2 linked regions of the Homo sapiens genome follow. The protein of the gene in region 1 interacts with the protein of each later gene in a pairwise test. Each region holds a gene or a part of one and is shown on either strand. Other genes may lie near its edges. The genes, in order: CLINT1 and BMP2K.

What was found.
Region 2: the proteins of CLINT1 (region 1) and BMP2K interact in binary tests that used the Homo sapiens proteins (3 or more experiments, as listed by UniProt).

The regions. Positions count from the first base shown.
Region 1 is NC_000005.10:157,798,516-157,809,698, reverse strand, and holds part of CLINT1 (clathrin interactor 1), read left to right. Parts: coding exon 1-71; intron 72-3,586; coding exon 3,587-3,833; intron 3,834-5,979; coding exon 5,980-6,049; intron 6,050-11,183. UniProt on the Homo sapiens protein: Binds to membranes enriched in phosphatidylinositol 4,5-bisphosphate (PtdIns(4,5)P2). May have a role in transport via clathrin-coated vesicles from the trans-Golgi network to endosomes. Stimulates clathrin assembly.
Region 2 is NC_000004.12:78,777,046-78,788,228, reverse strand, and holds part of BMP2K (BMP-2-inducible protein kinase), read right to left. Parts: intron 11,145-11,183; exon of another isoform or gene 6,335-11,144; intron 1-6,334. UniProt on the Homo sapiens protein: May be involved in osteoblast differentiation.

The sequences.
Region 1 (11,183 bases):
GGAAGCACAATTGATGACACCATCAGCAAGTTCCGGAGGAAAGATAGAGAAGACTCTCCAGAAAGATGCAGGTATTTTACCACTTTGTCTCCCGGGTCTCTTAGAAAGAGCCCTAAATTTATGCCACTGGGTTTTTGGTTTTTTGTTGGTTTTGTTTGGGGTATTAACATTATCTGAAATTGGGCCTTTTTTTTTTTTTTTAATAGACTTCATTTGTTTTTAGAGCAATTTAAGCTCACAGAAAAATTGTGCATAAAGTACAGAGTTGTCATATACCCACTTCCCCTTCATAACAGGTTCTGTGAACATCTTGCATTACTATGGTGCATTTGTTAACAATTGAAAAGCCAGTATGGATACACTTATTAACTAAAGTCTGTAGTTTACGTTGGGGTTTCCTATATTGTACACTTCTATGGGTTTCGACAAATGCATAATATTCCTCATTACTGTATTGTATAGAATAGTTTCACTGCCATAAATATGCCCTGTGCAGAAATGTGGAACAAGTCTTAAATGTGCAAGTTATCCTTGCACAGGGGGCATGCTAATCTTCCCTGTATTGTTCTGGTTTTAGTACATATGCTGCTGAAGCAAGCACTGTGCAACTATTTTTAAGATACTAGGTTATACACTACTTGCAATTAGTATTGACATACTTTCCATGTTGCCTCTGTCTACTTATTTTTGAAGTTGATCCTGTGTATTTTTATTCAAGCTAGTAGTCTTTCCTTGGATTTTTTTCCCCAGTAAAAACTTGTATAGATTATTTTGCATTTGGACCTTAGATGATCCAGGGACCTAAGATACTGAGGGATAATGAAGTTTATATATTAAGTTTAATTAAACATAAGTCAAAGGATTTGAAATTTAATGCTTCCTTGACATTTCATTATGATTCTGTGCCAGTGTGTACCAGAAAAACAATCCAAATGGATTTTGAACCAGTTTTTGAGAATAGAGCTGTATTTTTATAAACTACATTTTCTGATGGTATTTAGTTTTACATGGAACAATACTTTGAGCTTTGCAGCAGTCACTTTTGTTCTTACTTACCAATATTATTATAAACCAATTTTTCTGAGAATGTAAAGGGTAATGCATATAGCACTTAATTTACAGAGCAAATTTTACTTTTTAAATTTGACCTTTATCATTTGTGCCTCACAATATCTCTACTAGAGTAGAATAAGAATTTTGTCTTTGTTGTTTATAAGTAAAACCTAAAACCCAGTCACACTGTGTGGACTTGCCTAAATAACACAGTTAGTGATGGAACCAAGCCTTCAAGTGAGTTCTCGTAACTAAATGCCATCTCTTTTTCTTTACCCTGCGCCAAAAATCCTAATAGTTCAGAATTAGGGATCATTAAAAAGAGGTCCAAACAAAAATACAATCTAATTAGTGTATTTTTAGGATGTTTTCATATCTTTTAAATCCCTGGAATGCCTGTTCAGGAAATACCAACAGAATAATGGCCATAATTTCAATAATGTTTTCCAAACCAAGCCAAAACTTACACAGGCCACAAAAACATTAATGAGGGAAACAGCTCTGTATATTTGAAGTGGGCACCATTTCCCTCCCAATGTTTAGTATTTATAATTATCATATGCATCCTTTTTCAGTATAAAAAAGCTAGATATATACTTGTAAAATAGATTTATTCAAAGTGCTAAAAATAAGTTCTAGCTCTTCAAAGATCACATTCCAGTTTTTCAAACAGTCTTGAAAAAGAGACATTTCAGGGCAGGCTCAGTTCCACCACTAACTGTGTTACTTTAGGCAGATCCACACAGTCTGGTTGGGTCTTAGGTTTTACTTATAAACAATAACGCTATGTAGGCTGGTTAGATATCTGTGTGTGTTCTGTATTGTTACTTTCTCTCCTTTGCCCTTCTATCCTTAGTTTTTCTTTTCTTTGTCTCTCTACTCTTCTTTTATTTCTGTTTCTCCCATGATTTTTATTTTTTATGTTGCCTCTAAGACAGGATCTCCTAGAGTTTCTAAATCTTTAAGGAGTATTTAGGTTTAAAAGAGTGAAAATGCAGTGAACATGATTTATCGTGATAATGATAGGGCACACCAGGAACTTTTTATCTTAAAGTATTTGTGAGAGAAGAGTAGATTTTTTGACAGAGTTGCATATGACCTCAATCCTGATGGCATGTTACCTGAATTTCATACTTATTAGTTCACTATTACATTCAGGAATTCTTGAACATTGATCAGATATGGAGCTTCCATTTCATCGTGTGCTAGTCAGATTTATATTTTCAACTTGTGAATAAATTATTTTGCGCTGAAATAAAATTGGACACCAAAAAAGTAAGAAATTTCAGTTTTACTTGTAGGACTAATGGGAATCTTCAGGTCATTTGTTGTTGAGAAGTTAGTAAGGGCTTTTGAATGCGTATCAGAACTTGTAGGTTCCTTAAAATGTTTATATATAAAAATATATTTAACCCCTTTGCTCTGTGTGGGAAGTCATTCTTTTTGATCTTTGATTTATACAAGTTCCAGATTGGTTTATATTTAAGTACAAGTTGCTATAGTTCAGTCTGAGGTAAATTGCATCAGCAGTTTAAAGGAGAATTTTAAACATTATATTCCAGAATATTTATAAATTAAACCACCTACTCTAAAATTAAGTAATACAGGTAATGGAACATGTTTCAAGTAACATTTCTCTCTTTCTCTCTCTTTCGCTCTCTCTCTCTCTCTCTCTCTCTCTCCTACTTACATCAGAAAAAAACCCAATGACTTGTTACTAGAGAACAGACTAGGGCTGATATTTTCATTCCTAGCATATGAAAAACCCAGGCTTTTACTGTTTAGTTTTTAAAATCTTTTTCACTATTAAAGAAAAAGGAAAGAAAAAATTGTTGAATGTGGCTGAAGGAGAATTATCTTTAAAATATTTTAAATACAGTTGTTTTCTAGAAAGCATTTTCTATAGTTATATAAAAGTTTGATCTCCTGATACTATAGTAAAATAGCACAGTTGTAAAGTGCATTCCCTTATATTTTCATGCATTTACAGATGAGTTTAATTATTCGAATTAAGATGTGTGATTTTTTTAGCATCCATTGAACTTTTATTATTTTATTATGTACACACATTAGTCTTTGAGAGTTGATGCAGAATTGTGTTGTAAAAGTGGAACTATAGTAATTTGCACACAGTCCATGTCAAGAAAATAATCATCACATGCAAGTGTTTGAACTCTCAGGGTCTTATCATGGATTCTGATATCAAATCCTATTTTATTTTTAAGTTAAGCTTAAATCTGTAATAAAAACGAGTTATTTTGACATTTTTTATTTATACACATTTATGTAAATACTTTTTTGTAGCAGTATTTTAGACTTATATAGGATATTCTCTGTGTTTCCACTTCCCCTCCCCAGCGCACATATATCATTATTCAGACAGCTTAGATAACATTCTGTTGATCCCTGTCAAGTAGTCAAAGTATGAAATTTTGGAGTTACTGTATTTGAAATTCTTTAGCTCAAATCACTGAGGGACCCATTTTAAAATAATCCCGTCTTATTATTTTGCTTCATTTTTAATATCTTTTAGCGACAGCGATGAGGAAAAGAAAGCGAGAAGAGGCAGATCTCCCAAAGGTGAATTCAAAGATGAAGAGGAGACTGTGACGACAAAGCATATTCATATCACACAGGCCACAGAGACCACCACAACCAGACACAAGCGCACAGCAAATCCTTCCAAAACCATTGATCTTGGAGCAGCAGCACATTACACAGGGGACAAAGCAAGTCCAGATCAGAATGCTTCAACCCACACACCTCAGTCTTCAGTTAAGGTGGGAATGGCAGTAGTTTACACATTATACATGGTTTTATTTTTATAAACCGCTCTTCGAATTCCTGCATTAGTAGGCTTGGGCATTTCTAGGCAATCATATTAATTATGGATCATCTGGCATGTATTACCAAGAGACATTAATAATAAGAAATCTCTTTGAGGGGAGAAACCTGTCCAATTGCTGAATGATTGGGTACTTTCTATGAAAGTAGAAATGACACTTTTGGTTTGTTTGGGGAAGGTTGTGAATCAGAATGTAGTGCCTCTGTCCCCATCTAGACAATACTGGTTACCAACCACAAGTAGATTCACTAAAGAAAACATTGGAAGTATTTGAAAGTTTTAAGAAATGACAAACGAGGGAGTAAGAAGAGATATATAGGGGCAAGTTATCTCATGTAATGTAGAAACGTTGCCTATAAAGGGAGGCGTGTTTGCCTCACAGTCATTACTGATCAGTATCAAAAGAAGCACTGCCTCTTGTACCATCTTCGTTTGTTTTTATTTACCATAGAGATGAAATCCACCTGCTAGGTACCTGGCCAAACCCTAGTCTTTTCAACAGAAATCTGCCAAATAGGGAGATTTGCCTCAAAAGACTAAATTATTGTTTTTGTCACTTTCCCCGACTACTGTTTCCCCAGTTTGTGTCTTTGCAAGAGAAATAGCTAAAAGCTGGGAAAAACAGTTTTCTAATGTATGCAGCAGATTGTAGGTGACTCTGAAAATAAAACCAGGCCTGCTTAGTTGCAATAACAAATACCATGTCAGCTTTTGCCAAATATCTGTATAATTTTTTTAATAATAGAGACTTTTATCACATATCTTAAAGGATTTTAAATAACAGTTTGTAGTATAGCCTGAATATATGACACTCTGCAATAAATATTTTATATTTGTAGTACAAGCTTTTTCTTTTTCTTTTTCTTTTTTTGGAAGACCGAGTTTCGCTCTTGTTGCCCAGGCTAGAGTGCAATGGCGCGATCTTGGCTCACCGCAACCTCTGCTTCCCAGGTTCAAGTGATTCTCCTGCCTCAGCCTCCCGAGTAGCTGAGATTACAGGCATGCACCACCATGCCCGGCTAATTTTTTTGTATTTTTAGTAGAGACGGGCTTTCTCCATGTTGGTCAGGCTAGTCTCGAACTCCCGACCTCAAGTGATCCACCTGCTTCGGCCTCCCAAAGTGTTGGGATTACAGGCTTGAGCCACCGCGCCCGGCAGTACAAGCTTTTTCTTTTTTGTTTTCATTTACCCTCCTCCCCTCAAAAAAAATGTCTAGAAGGTTGAAGTTCTTAGAAAGTTACCCAACTCATTTGGATCTGTTCTTAAAGGTGTTTTGGAATCACAGTATATAGTATTTTAGTTTTCAAAGTTCAAATCAACATGCCTAGGATCTTAGGGTTTCCCCATTGCCTAATAATTGAGTTCTAATTTAGCATGTATATATCTAACATATAGGACATAGGTATTTAGGTATCAGGGTGCTTAGCTTTGTGGAGAAGATAAAAATAGTATTACAGGTATAGGCCTCAGTTTAGTTGGGGAACTAAATATGAAACATATCAATATATCAAATAACATAGAATTATACTAACTTGTGTGATATACAAACAATAAGTTTTGCTAAGGTTCATAGAAATTTAGAGCTGTTTAGGATCTTGACCTCTAATCCAGTGGATCTCAAGCCTTGGAATTATCTAGGGAGCTTTCTTGTAAGACTTTAACAGGCCAAGGTCTTGGCCTTTTTATACCTGGGCAATTATGACTCAGTGTATTGTATGGGACTGGTACATATGCTAGGGTATTTTTTTTTTTTTTTTTTTTTAATGAACTGATACTTAGCATTAAGATTCAAGTGGGATCTGGCAGTTAATATTTTCCAGAGTGAAATGCAGTCAGAAAAGTGAGGTAGGAAAAAAAGTGTCAATGTTAAGAGACTTTTACACTGCTGGGAATGGAGGTACTTAAAAGTGCTTGCTGCCTCTCCATAAGGATTCAAGGTCAGTACTCTTTTTCCAGAAAACCCTACCCTTATTAAGCTAATTACAGGTATTTATGTCTAAATTGAGAATTAGAGATGGATAGAGCTGATTTTTAGAAAAACAAACTTTTCGAAGCTCCTGAGTTATGTGTGTGTTTTCAGACTTCAGTGCCTAGCAGCAAGTCATCTGGTGACCTTGTTGATCTGTTTGATGGCACCAGCCAGTCAACAGGTAAGCTTCTACATTGGCCTTTTCTTTTGGTTTGAGAGTCATTTTTTAAAATGCCAAATAAAAGATAGATTGAAAAATAAGATTACTTATTTGCATTGGGTTCATTTTTTATATGAAATTAGTGAGTCTTGAGCATTATTTGGAATCATTGTGTTATTTTTGCTTATCTTTTTATATGTACACCCATTTCTCTATCCCTATTTTATACCTTTTTCTGACCCACCCTCAGACTAGCAAAACTTTGTTTGTGGTCAGTACTTATTGGTGGTTAATAATAGTATCCTCAAATCATTATCATACTTAGATTTTAATGACTCCTCATACCTGATGTACTGTGTCTTCCCTAATTAATAATAAATAGTATTTCAAGGCATCATGTACTTTCTGAAATTTTTCATCATAGATTTTGGAATCTATAGTTTCCATTTTTAATTTTTAAGATTAACTTGGAGAAACAAAAAATTGCATTTAAACTGTTGCCTTTACTTTCTTTATAAGCAAAAGGTACTGCTCTGCGCATTTTACTGTCTTTCCCTAAATTTTAATTGCAGCTGTCACCTTGGGCATGCCTAGAGATCATTTAACTTTTTATTCTTTTAATTGAACAAATATTTGTTGAACCAGACACTGATCTGGGTGCTTGTAAAAAACAGAGTTGTTGTCCTCATGCGAAGGTCAAGTGGAGAAAATAATCATTAATCAGAGTCACAAATAGTTATCTAGTGATAAACAATGGCAAGTGCTTCAGTCAGAGGAATGACATTCTCTGAAAGTATGTAACTACCAAACATATTTAAAGAGGGCGGCTGGGCGTGGTGGCTGACCCCTGTAATCCCAGCACTTTGGGAGGCCGAGGGAGGTGGATCACCTGAGATCAGGAGTTCGAGACCAGCCTGGCCAACATGGTGATACCCTGTCTCTACTGAAAATACAAAAATTAGCCGGGTATGGTGGCAGGTACCTGTAATCCCAGCTACTCGGGAGGCTGAGGCAGGAGAATCACTTGAACCCGGGAGGCGGAGGTTGCAGTGAACGGAGATTGCGCCATTGCACTCCAGCCTGGGCAACAACAGTGAAAAACTCCATCTCGGAAAAAAAAAAAAAAAAGAGAGGGCTACAGCAAAAGAACTGTTTACCTTGAATTTCTCATAGATGAGATTGATGATTTCTTCAGTTTGATTTCCAGTATGTGCTAGATTTTGAGTAATTTCTGATCAATTGTTTTCAAGAAAATTGATATTTTTAGGGTTGTATTTGATGATTATGGAGTTTTAATAAACTATTGTGTGACGTGTCAAAATAGTTTAACAAATACATCTTCTGTTTAAAGACAGTCTTTCCAAGCCTAAGTTCATTTCACATTAAAATGTAGACAGTAAGATGGGGGTATGACTAATGTGCAAAGTAAATTTATTATTCCCAGTTGTGTGTAATGATTTTTCAAAGCCGAATTGTGGCTGTGCACAGTGGCTCACACCTGTAATCCCAGCACTTTGGGAGGCCGAGGCAGGCGGATCACCTGAGGTCAGGAGTTCAAGACCAGCATGGCCAACATGGTGAAACCCTGTCTCTACTAAAACTACAAAAATTAGTTTGGCGTGGTGATGGGCACCTTTAATCCCCGCTACTCAGGAGACTAAGGCAGGAGAATCGCTTGAACCCAGGAGGTGGAGTTTGCAATGAGCTGAGATCATGCCACTACACTCCAGCTGGAGTGACAGAGCAAGACTCTTGTCTCAAAAAAAAAAAAACTTTAACTTAACCTTTAAGTGTAAGTCTATGCTGGAAATTACTTTTCACTGATAGTTTAGTATAATTAATGTAATATAAAGCCCCCTATTATTTCCTCCTCCTTACCTACTATGTTAAAATTCTTGGATTAGGCATGAACTTTATTCAAGCAATTCTCTTGCCTAAGCTTCTCGAGTAGCTGGGATTACAGTCACCTGCCACCATGCCTGGCTAATTTTTGTATATTTAGTAGAGACGGAGTTTCACTGTGTTGGCCAGGCTGGTCTCGAACTCCTGACCTCAGGTGATCTGCCTGCCTCAGCCTCCCGAAGTGCTGGGATTACAGGTGTGAGCCACTGCACCCAGCCCAGACATCTGGTTTGACCTACTTTCTTTCTCTATTTTTTTTTTTGAGACAGAGTTTCGCCCTTGTTGCCCAGGCTGGAGTGCAGTACACAGTCTTGACTCACTGCAACCTCTGCCTCCCGGGTTCAAGCGATTCTCCTGCCTCAGTCTCCTGAGTAGCTGGAATTTCAGGCATGCGCCACCACGCCCGGCTGATTTTTGTATTTTTAGTAGAGACAGGGTTTCTCCATGTTGGCCAGCTTGGTCTCAAACTCCTGACCTCAGGTGATCCACCTGTTTTGGCCTCCCAAAGTGCTGGGATTACAGGCGTGAGCCACCATGCCTGGCCAGCCTACTTTCTGAAATTCTTCAATTCCCTTTCCCGTTTTTCTGTAACTGCAAACTGTTCCTAAAATTATTCATTAAACTTGATTGGACTGTAATGCCCAAGGTTACGGACAGCTACATTAGTTGTGTAACAATTTATGTGATATATTTTTATATGTTTAAGATTTGAACTGTAGAATTAACTGGTAGTTAGCATGTAGTCATATAATACAGATATAGTGTCACAGAATATCAACTATTTTGGACTTCCTGGCATGAAATATTTAAAGGGCCCCTTTCATGCATCTGTGAAAAGTTTTAATGGAGCAATCAGAGAAGAATTAACTAGGAAGGTCAGATGGGTGGATGTAACTTTTCCTCTGTGACATCAAGATTGCTTTGAACAGAGAGATTTATTAAATACCAACATGCTTCCTTTACTTGGCAAGGAACCTTTGAGTGGTTTGTCTTCTCCAGTGCAAACAGTAGTTTGACTAATTAAATAGAAGTAGCAATTGATATTAATATAGTAACTGAGAAAGTTTGAATGAAATCTAGGAGGTTTCTTGCCTTAAATTTTATTTTATCTTAATAAAAAGCAACTAATAGAGATTGATATTAGAAGAATTTTTTAAAATTAAAGTTATCTCCTATTTGAAACCGTATGTTTAACCAGTTTGTGCAGCTCCCTCTTCAATCAGTACATAAATTTAGTTACTCCCAATCTCTATTTAAATATTTTAATAATATATTTTAAATTGAATTCAGCAGTGAAAGGAAATTGGGCATTAAATCTTTAGCACTTACACGAGAAGGTATAAGAATCTACCATATTAACATTGCTATTTGGTATGTCATTTGGGTGTCATTTACCAGATGTGCCCATATTTATAATAGTACCATCATGCAAGTAATGTGGGCACAAACTGTAAAGCTAAGCAGATATGGCATCTGTACCACTCACCAGCTAAATATATCCTCTGAGAAAATGTTCAGATTTTTGTGTGTGTGTGATTACATGTTCTTAGCATTCTCAAAAGTATATATGGTAAAATCATTGTAGAATATCTTACCAAGTTTAAAAATATATATGTAAAACCTAACTATCAGGATTTACTTGAGACTATCTCATATCTTAATAAAATGTCCCCTTGTGGTGATATTCTTTTAAAACCTGTACTCACATGGTGTTTCAGTTGCTTTTACATAAAGTACATTTCTAAGTAAACATTTTAAGAAATGAAAAATAATTTAAAGTACAGTCATGGACTGCATAGTATGTGACCATGGTCCCATATACAATACTATATTTCTACCGTACCTTTCTTATGTTTAGATATACAAACACTTTCTATTGTGTTACAGTTGCCTACAGTATCCAGTATAGTGACATGATGTACAGATTTGAAGTCAAGGAGTAATAGGCTATACCTTATAGCCTAGGTATGTAGTAGGCTAACTAGGTTTGTGTAAGTACCCTCTATGATGTTTGCACAATGACAAAATTGCCTAATGCCCCAATGCATTCTGTCATTGAGAAATGTGTGACTATATTTAGAAAATAAGCCAATTAGAAATAGAATGCCAAAAACTGTCCCATTTCTTTTTTTAGTTTATCTCACCTCTTTAAAAAGAAGTCCAACTTGTCTCTTTTGTCCCTTTGTAATTAAGAAATTTAGGTCTTGATTAACATACTGTTAAACTAGATATTTCTAGTACAATAAATAAGGTTGAGAAAATTCAGCATAATCAATACAGATAGAACTTAAATGACTTGCAATATATTTTGAATGTTTTTAAGTTAAAAAGAAACATTTAAAAGGATTAAGGTATATCAAATCCGAAATGTGTATTACATTTACATTTGAACCTGCTGCTTTGTACCCAGTAATCGCTAGTTAGTTGAAGACATTTACATGAACATGTAAATACTCACCTTGTTCCATTCTTAGTACACTAACTTATCATTTGGGTAGGGGTTGTCTCCAGTTTTAAACTAAGTTTACTGAAAATAAAATTTTTTCAGTATATTCTCTTTTTCACTGATTATTAAAAGTAATGCACATTCAATTTGGTGGAAAACAAGTGATTTACCATAATTTAGACACATAAAGTATTAATCTGGTGAATATCTTTTTAAAATACATTTTCTACATATTCCATTAATGTAGTTATTTAAGCATTTATTATGTGGCAGATCTTTTTCAGGCTTTTAGATATGACTTTTCATTTGTTTGGGTTTTTCTGGGTTTTAGTCATTTATTTATATATTTTGATAAACTGCTTTTCACCTAAGATCTCATGACCATTTTCTTATGATAGTTGGTATTCTTTTATAGTACTTTTCATTGCTTTATAATCTTACATTGGGTGGCTATATTATAATTTAGCCAGTTAATCCCTTGTTTTCTAGACATTAGTTTTTTTATTTTTCCAAAATTTTGTAGTACAATAGCACCTTTTAAAGCTTTTTCAGTTTGGTAAAGAGAAAATAATATTTCATTTTATTTTGCATTGATGATTGAGTTTGAACACTTCATATTTTTATAGGCCAGTTGTTACTATCTATTCATGTTCTTTATTTATTAGGAGTATTCATCCTTATTGATATTCTAAAACTTGTGTATTATAGATAATAATTCTTTGTCATGTATTTACATTTTTTTTGCACTTTGCCATTGCTTTAATGTTGTGTAAATTCTTCATGCAAAAGTTTGTCTTAATGTAATCT
Region 2 (11,183 bases), on another chromosome or scaffold:
ATCATGAGTCAGTAGCAACTTTTTTTTTCTGTGCCTGTATAAAAAAATAGACCATTAACATTCAACGGAAGAGAGTCTGTGATGCAGGCAAGAGAATGAAAAAATGGGTAATTGCCAGTGATGCATAATCCCACTCCCTAGAAAAATAGTCCTGACAAGATTCAGGAAAAAAAAAAATTACTTTAGTAGTAGTATCTTTATGATTCAGAAAGAATAGTAAAACCTAAACTAACCACTGACAATCTCATTCAAAAGAGAATACTTATGTATAAAGCTCCAGGCAGCCCTAACAATGGTCCAACCAGCAAAAATAAAGCAAAATAAGTAAATACAGCATTTAGGCAAGGGGAAATAGTGTACTGGAACCCTCTCTTCCAGAAATTGAAAGAAAGAATAGTCAAGGGTGGTTTGCTACCCTCTGACCTTTGGGCCAGGCTTACAAATTTCCTAATCTAAAAGCAAACTAAATGTCTTTCCACCTAGAAAATAAGTACCTTCAATATCATACAGTTCAGTTAGAGGAATCCCCAAAGTTAATGCTCATTTGTTTCCCTCCCCAGGAGCCTTAAGGAGATAAGATCCCCTTCTTCTTCCTAATACCCTCATCCTCTTAGACACCATTCATCCCATTGAGTGGTACTATCCGCCACTCAAGATAAAGCCATACACAGCTGACCACCCCCAAAACTGTTTTCTTAAGATCAGTTATCCAAAGCACATACTTTAGACTACCCAGCTCCCACTCTGTCTAACGGTAGTGGCTCAAGGGAATTCAGGCTAGAACATTTTGAGAGTCACATCAAATACAAGCAATGCAGTACCCACAAAACAAAGATGTACTATACATATAACCATAACAGAAATAAAACAGGCTAGGAGTCCAAAAATAAATCTGGTAGTATTTTTTCATCCATCTATTTAATGCTAGAACTACATTATTAACAAATATCTCTATCTCCTTATTTTAAAATGGACAGAACTTCAAAAACAGAGTCAGCCTTCTCCTAAATATCAACTGAACAGCTTGATATGTCAAATATGGCTGCTATCCAATTGTTTCATAGTAATTTGTAGCAAGCCCTCTGATCACTTTTGAATACCAAAACTCAACCTCTTACAGAGGTACTCAATACTATCATGAGTACAGCACTGCAAGAGATAAAAGACGAATACAAGGCCAAGCATGGTGCCTCACACCTGTAATCCCAGCACTTTGGGAGGCCAAAGCAGGAGGACCACTTGAGGCCAGGAGTTCAAAACCAGCCTGGATAACGTAACAAGATCCCATCTCTACCAAATATTTTAAAAATAATGAGAGGGAAAAAAAGAATGAATACAAGATAAGCCTTAAAAGAATTAAATTTTAAAGTAGAGAAAATTACGCATTTTATTAGAATAGAACAAAGCTATTTAAGATAAGTGCTATATGAGTAACAGTTGCTACGCAGAGCAAAGGAAGGCATAATTACACTTATTTGGTTGTAGATAGGGTTTCAGGAAAAAATAAAGATTACAAAAAAGTAACTATTTTAAATATATCCTACAAGACCCCATTTTTAACAGAGTGGTGGAGGCCAGTATTTGCATTCTGGGCAAACATAACAACATAAGCTAAAAAACAGAAATGGAGAAGTGTGGCAAGGTGGCACATGCCTATTGTCCCAACTGTCGGGAGGCTAAGGCAAGGGGACTGCTTGAGGCCAGTAGCTCAAGGCTGCAGTGAGCTATGATCACACCACTGCACTCCAGCCTAGCCAATAGAGACCGTGTCTCAAAACACACACACACACACACACACACACACACACACACACACACACACATTGGGTGGCTTATAAGCAACAGAATTTCTTACTGTTATGGAGACTGGGAAGTCCAAGAGCAAGGTGCTGGGAAATTCAGTGCCTGGAGAGGGCTTGTTTCCTCACAGATGGCCATCTTCTCACTCTAACCTTATGTAGTGCAAGGGATGAGGGATCTCTCTGGGGCCTCTTTTATAAGGGCATTAATTCCATTCATGAGGGCTCTCATGACCCAATCATTTCCCAAGGGCCCCATCACTAAATAGCATCACCTTGGGCGTTGGGATTTCAACATATGAATTGCGGGAGGAGTCACAAACATTCAGACGATAGCAGAAAGCTTGAGAGAAGTGCAGAAAATACCAAGCACATCAGTGTAATATAAGTAGGGAGTAAGAGTAAGAGATTAAGGCTGGAGAGGTAGGTTGGAGGTCATACTGAACTGGAGGTTCAGGTCAGGGGGTCCTGAATCCTAGAGTAACGAGTTTGTACTTTACTTGGTTAGGCAAGTAAGAGAGTGACATGAGCATAAGTCCATTTTAGGAAGAATAAACTGGAAGGAATACAAGAATTGGTTTGGCAAGGAAAGAGTCTGAAAGAACAGTCCAAATGCTAATATAATTCTCTAAACGAGATGTATTAAGGACCCAAATTAGGGCTGACAGCATTGGAAACAAAAGGTACCCAATTTCCCACACATATCAAGGGTAAACTTTGTATCTGTAAACTTCATCAGAGAAAGTACTGTCATACCTCCTCCTCATATATTCTTTTTGAATAAAAAGGTTTTGTTTTGTTACTAATACTCTCTAAAATACATATATTGTGCATGAGTCTCTTAGAGAACACAATCAAGATAGTAAAATAAGCAATTAAGGTGGCATGCCCACTGAAACTAAATAGTATTCTGAAATGTCACACAATTTAATTTGAGCTTCTACCCGGATCTCAAGGACTAGCATGTAAGGCAACTTCTTAGAAAAGACCTTTTTCCAATGATTAAAAAATAATTTTAGGCCGGGCGCAGTGGCTCATGACTGTAATCCCAGCACTTTGGGAAGCCAAGGTGGGCAGATCACCTGAGGTCAGAAGTTAAGAAACCAGCCTGGCCAACACGGTGAAGCCCTGTCTCTACTAAAAATACAAAAATTAGCCAGGTGTGGTGGCAAGAACCTGTAATCCCAGCTACTTGGGAGGCTGAGGCAGGAGAATCACTTGAACCCAGGAGGCAGAGGTTGCAGTGAACCACAACTGCAGCACTGCACTCCAGCCTGGGCAACAGAGCAAGACTCCGTCTTGAAAAAATAAAATAAAATAAAATAAAAATAATTTCATACTTTAGGATTAAAAAATAAATTGCCATTCCATTGTGAAGTCTGTCAAAGAACTCAAATTGTATAACGATCAAACACAATCCTTTCATTATGGTCTCAATCCTGAAATTGTTCATTGCTATTCCTCCCTGTCCCATGCTCCTCATTTATCTAAAAGAGCAGTTAAAATCAGTTACATAGACAGAATCCAAGAATACTAAAATGGAAAAAGATGTTACAAATTCATTTTTTCCACTTCATTTTTTTCTTGAGGAAACTGAAGTCAAAACGTCACAATGCAAGTTAGAGGCAGAACAGGGATTACCAGCTGGTATTTTTCCCCGATAGATGCGTCCAAGAAGGCACTATTTCAAAGATAATTAAAAATGTTAAAATGGGCAAACTAGTAACAACAATCATTCCATATTTTAAAATAATACTTACTGCAAAATGCCTCTAATGTTACTGCAATTCTACAAGACTAGGATAAACCAAAAACAAAGTCTCTCTGTAGAAAAGGCCTTACAACCACTTTCCTGCAGAGAGAGACTTTTGAAACAGTTAGCAGACATGTGCTGACTGACCTCATTTGTAAAGCTGATACACATAGACAAAGAATCTCCAAATTAACTAAGTGCCCAGCTATTTAAAACAGCTCAGTCATTAACCACTCAACTTCCCAACTTAGTCCCCTAAAAATAGCAGGCTGTGGGTAGATGAATGGTTCACCAGATGCATGCAAGATAAAACAAAGGAATAAACAGTCCCAATCTTTTGGAGATGAAATATTATACCCGACCACTAGAAAAGTGTGGCAGCTTTGAAATGGTAGTTCAAGACTCTTAACTTTGGAATCCCAAGTCAAGGCTTTAATCATTTTGATAACTACCAAATGAGCTCTATTGGATGTATATGAAACTACTTCAAGTTCTGACAAAAAAATAGGAGGGAAATGGTGAAAGAAAACCAAGATAATATACAAGATCAGAAAGAACACTATATAAGACCCAGGATCAACATAAGGACATCCGTCTCACTTTCTAGTACATTCTCTAACATTGACAACATCAAGGACCTTTTCCAAGTTTCCCTACTGTGCACCCCATGATGAAACATACTAACAAATATTAATTCATTTTCATTATTTTTAAAATATCGAAGACATAGCCTTTTCAATCTGCCCAGCATGAGAATGTCAGTATTAACCACAATAGTTGACTACAGCCTAAAAGCAAAGATATTTGGCATGTTTGTACAATTTAGCACTTTTATTTTTATTTATTATTTATTTATTTATTTATTTATTTTGAGACAGCGTCTTGCTGTGTCACCCAGGCTGGAGTGCAATGGCTCTATCTCACCTTACTGCAACCTCTGCCTCCTGGGCTCAAGGGATTCTCCTGCCTCAGCCTCATGAGTAGCTGTTATTATAGGCACGTGCCACTATGCCCGGCTAATATTTGTGTTTTTAGTAGAGATGGGGTTTCACCCTGTTGGCCAGGCTGGTCTCGAACTCCTGGCCTCAAGTGATCTACCTGTCTCAGCCTCCCAAAGTGCTGGGATTACAGGCGTGAGCCACCATGCCCATCCTGTACAATTTAGCACCTTTACTGGAGATAAATGCATTATAAATTTCCACTGTTTTTTTGGAATACTGAAAATTTAGAATAATTGTTTTAGTGTCAGTAGCTTGTCCTTGAATAAAACTACTACCTCTAGAGGAAATACATTAACGGACAATCAAAATTACATCCTAGGAGCTATCACTACAATAATAACATAAACAACCCAAAAAAGAACCATTTGTTAATATTGTATATAGTGTCCTTTGTTGCAAATAATTTCCATTTTATAGTGAAATCATATGCTACTATATAGGTCAAAATTTTATATAGCTGATTGAAACTTGAAAATTCAATATGGCTGAGGGACACATAATTATCTAACAAACTATTCAGATATTTTTCAAACACAAATGTGATACTTATTCAGGATAAATGTGATACCAAATATATAATAAAGTCACTATAATTTCCAAATCAGATTTCACTGAAAGCGTATAACCAAATCGGAACTTAAAAGTTCACTCATAGTTATGAAGAGATTTGGCAATGCACTGTCAGGTACTGTCACACATTATCTTCTCTAATCTTCATAATAGATATTAACTCCTTGTTTCAGAAGAGGAAACAATGTTTTCTAAGAGCTTAATTAAACAACAACAAAAAAGGGTGCTGAGTAAGTACTACTGGACAACTGAATGCACAGGTGAATAGACCTTGGTTCTACCCCCAAAAAGCTCAGCATCCAAAAAAAGCTGTCAAAATTAACCACAAAATGTAAAACAATTTCACAATTGCATGTAACATACTTTTTTAAAAACTCAGCCACCTTTGTAGAATAAATAAAAATACAATGTCAATAAAGCAAGATAACTACAAGGGGGCATCTGGGTTATTTTTTTTCTTTCCTGTTTCAAGTTGTTAAGTGAAATGACACTGCCTTAACGGTTGTTTGTCTTCACCAAACTAGAAAACACAGAGTCCTCTGGCCTAAGTACAAAACCTTTGATGGTCCAGTAAAGAGCCCTCCATTGGTGCTCTTCAATTTGCAAATTAGGCCTTAAATTCTACTGAAGATCATCATCTGATTAAAAATAAAAAAATCAAGCACCATTTCCTTTGAGAAGTAGCTGAATGTTCATGGTATGGCCAACTTGTGTGATACAACATCAATTAAAACAGAGTCTGTCTAGCCTTAAGAATTTTACTATCTGGTAGTGGAGATGACAGAGGAACAGTAGTTAACAACCTTAGTGTTTCTAGGTGCTTACATAATTCCATCTCAAGACAGGTTAAATGTGACAAGAGGGAAAAAAGCAAATAGTTACAAGTGTCCACAGAAAGGAGGAAGTGATCATAACCAGTACTTAGGAAACAGGGATTACAGAGACAAAGGCAGAGTGCTAGGCAAGTACAAGATTCAGTCACGGACCAACAGGGAGTGGAGCACATTGCACCAGGCGCAAAGAGTATTCACCTAGCAAATAATTACAGGTAAGCTTTTAAAGATAAGAAGTGAGCATGAATAACTGTGAATGCCAGGCGAAAAAATGTGATCAAGTAAGATGACTTTGCAGCAACACAACTGCTCACTCCCTCCCCTTCTTGAAATACTCTCAAGTTTCCAGGTATCAGAGTGTCCTGGTATTCCTCATACCTCTCTAGCACCTTCTTCTTAGTCTTCTTCGCCCGCTCGAAATCAGTGGTACTCGGTACTCAAGACGTGGTTCCTGAACCGGCAGCATCTGTATCACTGAAAGAGTGGGCCTCACTCAGACATAATCAAAAGTTGGGGACCAGGCTCAGCACTTCTGTTTTACCAAATCCTCTGAATGTTTACAATGAACACTAATGTCTGAGACCAATGCACTATAGGAGTCCTTCAATGAGCACCTTCTCATTCTACACTCTCCCTACATCCATCCTCTCCCAGGGCTTTAAATAACAGCCAGGGCTCACTAATCAATCAGAAGTACCATCTCTAAGCCCAAACACCTTTGCTGAGTTCCAGACGACATACCCAGCTTCCCATTTGATATTTCCTCTCAGATATCTCATCCAAACACATCTCTAAACATGTCTGAACTACTGGCTGTCCTCCAAACACCTCAAAAAAAAAAAAAAAAATCTGTTCCTTCCTTATGTTCCCAAACGGTACTTTCACCTGAGAGATACATAAGCAAGTAATTCCTAACACTTCCTATGACCACCACAAGGTCTTCCCATTTAAGCATTATCATCTTCATCCCCACTGTCATCATTTTAACCTTATAATTTGTATACCTCTCTATACAGCAATCAGCATGATCTTGTAAAAATACAAATCAGAGCATGTCACTGCCCCAATTCAAACCCTTCAATAGCTTCCTGTTGCATTTCAGATAAAACCTAAACTCCTCAGCATGGTATACTAAGCCCCGGACCCTGGTCACCTTGCCAACATCATCTTGGATCTCTCTTACATGTGATTCATTCATTGTAGTCCACAGCTCTGAGCATATTTCAGTTTCTGAAACTTCCTTCCCTCACACAGAGACTTCAGTCTTCATGACATACTTCAAATCACCCCAACCTCACACCTCTGTTTTTACCTAACTTTCTTCATCCTTCAGGTTTCTGCTAAAAGATCAAAAAGGCCTTCCTTGACCCCCCAGTCTAAACTGAATTCTCTCATAAAACCCTGAGCATTGTCTTCACGACACATATAAAAAATTTTAACTATAGTAACTTGGTGATTTTTGTTGGCTTGTTTAGCTTTTACCTTCCACACTAATCTGTAAGTTTCATAGGCCAGAAGAATACCTCCACTATTGTCCTCTACTATGTTAAGTAGCACCTAGCAGTGCTTAGCACACCAAAGGCATTTAATGAAGTTGTGTAGTAGTAACAGTTGTTGATATTTTTATTCGATCCTTCCCTTTTTTCTATCCTCTCTATCTTCTCTTCGGAATGTGAACTTACAAGTTACTGGGCAGCCACAGATGCTTTCTGCAAATGAGATATAATGCTTAAATCTATCATTTCCCTACTAATTTATAGTGCAAAATCAGATGTATAGTACAACCTTCCTGAAAAATTAACAACGAGAACTGGCTAATACTTAGCTTATCTAAGCATTTAACTCTAAGAGAAATACTGAGCTATTTTTAAAGAACCCTGTAGTAAATTCCTGGCCTCCAATTACTAACAATCCAATAACCCCCAACACCCATCTCAGTAAATCTTACCCACATCACCATATTCACACTATCATTCCTACCCAGCCCCCATAACCTCGTGATTACATTATCTCAACAAGTTATCTCTGCTCTCCCAGTCTCAACACCCCATTTTAGGTCCATTTTGTACCAAGGACATTTAGGGAAAACAATGTCCCCTACTCAAAAACCAACTTATTATCAATCAGTATTAAATTCCTCAGACTAGCACCAAAGGCTTGTTATGGTGATGCATGTGGTCAACAAGCCAACCCCAGGTTTTAGTAAAAACTTGGAAGGTTACATTGAATTAATTATATGAGCCTGACAATTTGTCACTGTTTGAAGCTAAAACCAACATACCGCTCTCCCTCATTTCTACAGACCAAAGCTGGGATCTGCTTAGTACAGACTCCTAAACATGTTTTTGAGAAAAAAAACATGAACTGCCTCACTATGTTATCAGTCCTTTAAACTTTGAGGAGGAACTAAAAAGGTGCAAGTTCTATTTTCAAACACTTATGTGCTTGACTACAAAGACATTATGATACAAAGTATATAATGTTTCAGAGAGAAAACTTTAACAGTTTAGTTATAACATACAACCTACCCCTGAGAATCTGCTTTTCAAATTATAGACATAATATGTGCATATACATATCTACCTATAACAAAGGTTGCTCCTCATTAGTTGAGGATACTATATTTACAAATTCATCTACTCACTAACATTTATTTGTATCCCCAAAATCATTACTCATAGCACTTCCACTGTCATTGCAGACATGTGCACAATGGTGAAAAATGTGAGTCTACTGACGTGCACATTCTAGTTTCAGCTTACATAGTGTAAACAAGTGTCCTTTTCATGGTCTATTTAGTGCCATGTTTTTCTCATTTTTGTGCTTGCTATTGGTGATTTCACTGTTGAAAACAGTCCCTAAGCGTAGTGCTAAAGTGCTGTCTAGTGTTCAAGGAGCAAAGACTACAGAGAAAATACAAGTGTGAGATAATCTTCATTGAGGCATGATTTACAGAGCTGTTGGCCATGATTTCAATGTTAATAAATCAACCAAATATATTAAATAAGGTGTATTTAAACTGCAACAGACATAAAACAAGGTTGTATCTTGATCAGTTGACAAAAATGTTGTGAACAGCAGCTTTCAGGAATCTAACACCATAGTAGGAGCAGTGGTTCAGTGTTTGCTAATCCAGTTTTCACGGTGACTTTTTGCAACATAACTAATTATATAAAAATAACAACAGAGAGACGGACGGATTTATTAAAAAGACACTGCAGAGGTCATTATGAGTAAACTACCAATGTTTGCAGGAGCATGGCAAAAACACTTCAGGGCACAGTATCTACTGAGTCTTCCTGGCTCTGTTTAAACAACTTTGGGCCAAAACAAAAAATGCAAAATCTACCAAGTCTGTGCTTTGGTCTATCTTAGCTTCTACCGCTTTGCCTACTCAGTGGTATCCCTCTCCCCAAATCAAGTACTCTAAACTTGAATGCATTTTCACAAGTACATGACCCAATCTTATGATCAGGCAGACCCATCAATTATTGATTAATCACGCTTAAATGCGAACTAGACTTGTGCTTAAACATCTTGTCTAAATTGTGGCACTATTTATTAGGAAGGGAGAGGGGATATTAAGCATCTGAAATAAGACCGGCCAGGATCAAAATTAAACTGATTATACATAGACAATTCCAGTTGTGTGGGTGATGGAGACAGAAAAAATACACAAGGAAAGAAAACCTAGGCCTTGGCCTCCCTTCTAGGAAATTAAAGCTGGGGTGTAGGATGGAGAAGTTTCATCTTCTAAAAGGATTTCTTCAGTCCTTGCTTCCTCCTAGCATTTGATTATTGACTTTTCAAGAGAAATGATACATTTATGGCAAAAGTCAGTGGAACACTCTAACAGTGACATTAGCGCTTGAAATAAACTTTTATTCTTCGTTGTGGTTGAACGAACTCTCCTTTTGAAATTCATCTTTATTACTTTCCAAAATTATTTTTTTATTGAAAATGGCTTGCTTAGGGTAGTGATAAGATATGCTTAGGGTAGTGAGTAATACAAGTTACAAATTCAAAATCTAATTTGTGAAATGTCAGTATTTTTTTTCTATTAAATAAAAGACCCATCTGGGATTTAGTGGAATGAGTGAGTGTAACACTACTCAAGCTACATTTCAATTAGTTACTAAAACAATTCAAAGACAGAATATGGCATTTGAGTGAAGAGCCATGTGCTTTTAAAACCTACAACACAATCTAAACCAATAATTGAAATTCATGTGTAATAAAGAGCTAGAAAACTTTATAGTATAGTAAATCTTTTATAAAGACCACTCACCACATATTCATTCTTCTGAAAAACTAAGGATCCTCCTTCTCCCACCTCTCCAAGTTTCGGCTAAGATCATTATTCTGAGCAATGGTTCACGAAACAATGATATGTACACTTGAATAATTCACGATTTCTTTCTCTTTCAAATATTTTATACAAAAATCTTCAGGTTTTTTCCCTTGTGCTAATTTACTGTTGTGTATAGCATTTCAAAAAATACAAGCGGAATCTCAGTCTACTGTTTTCAAACCACATCAACGTCTAACGCTCGGAGAACTGAATCCACTCTTCGATTTTTTTTATCTTAACCATAGAACTTAAAAGGGCCATTTATCAACAAAAAGTATTTCTTTTAAAGTGTTTATTTTGTAGTATCATTTTGCAACTAAAAACTCAAAGGCCAATGAAGCATGCAGCACACAGGGCAAGTATTTTCTACAAGGCAATTATGCCAGAAATACAAAACTAAATTCTAAGTTCTTCTTTTAAAATGGAGTAAACTTTTTTTGTAAGTAGACTTCTACCTGCCGTCATAACCTGTTCCAGATCATGAAGGACCGACCACAAAACCTCGTTAAGTGAAAGTTAACCTGCTTTTATATCACCTTTTAAACTACTATCAAAGAGACATACTGGGAGGGCATGAATAGCACCTTGTCCAACAGAGAAGATTCTAAATAACAAAGATAAATGGGCTCCAAGTTTACCTGCTCCTCAGTGCAACCTACTAACTGAATTTAGAGCAAAGGATCACCTCCAACACGCACACATGCACACAAATACATTGTTTTTCAACAGATGACTGAGCTGCAGCAAAGCCCAGCTTGACACCAGGGGCTGCAGGGTCCTATGCCCTGCAGCGCGGGTGGAGGCTTAGATGAAAAGGCCAACGCATGACACCCGTCTGAGCCACAGCTGGCAGAACGGAGCTTCAACCCTGTTCGA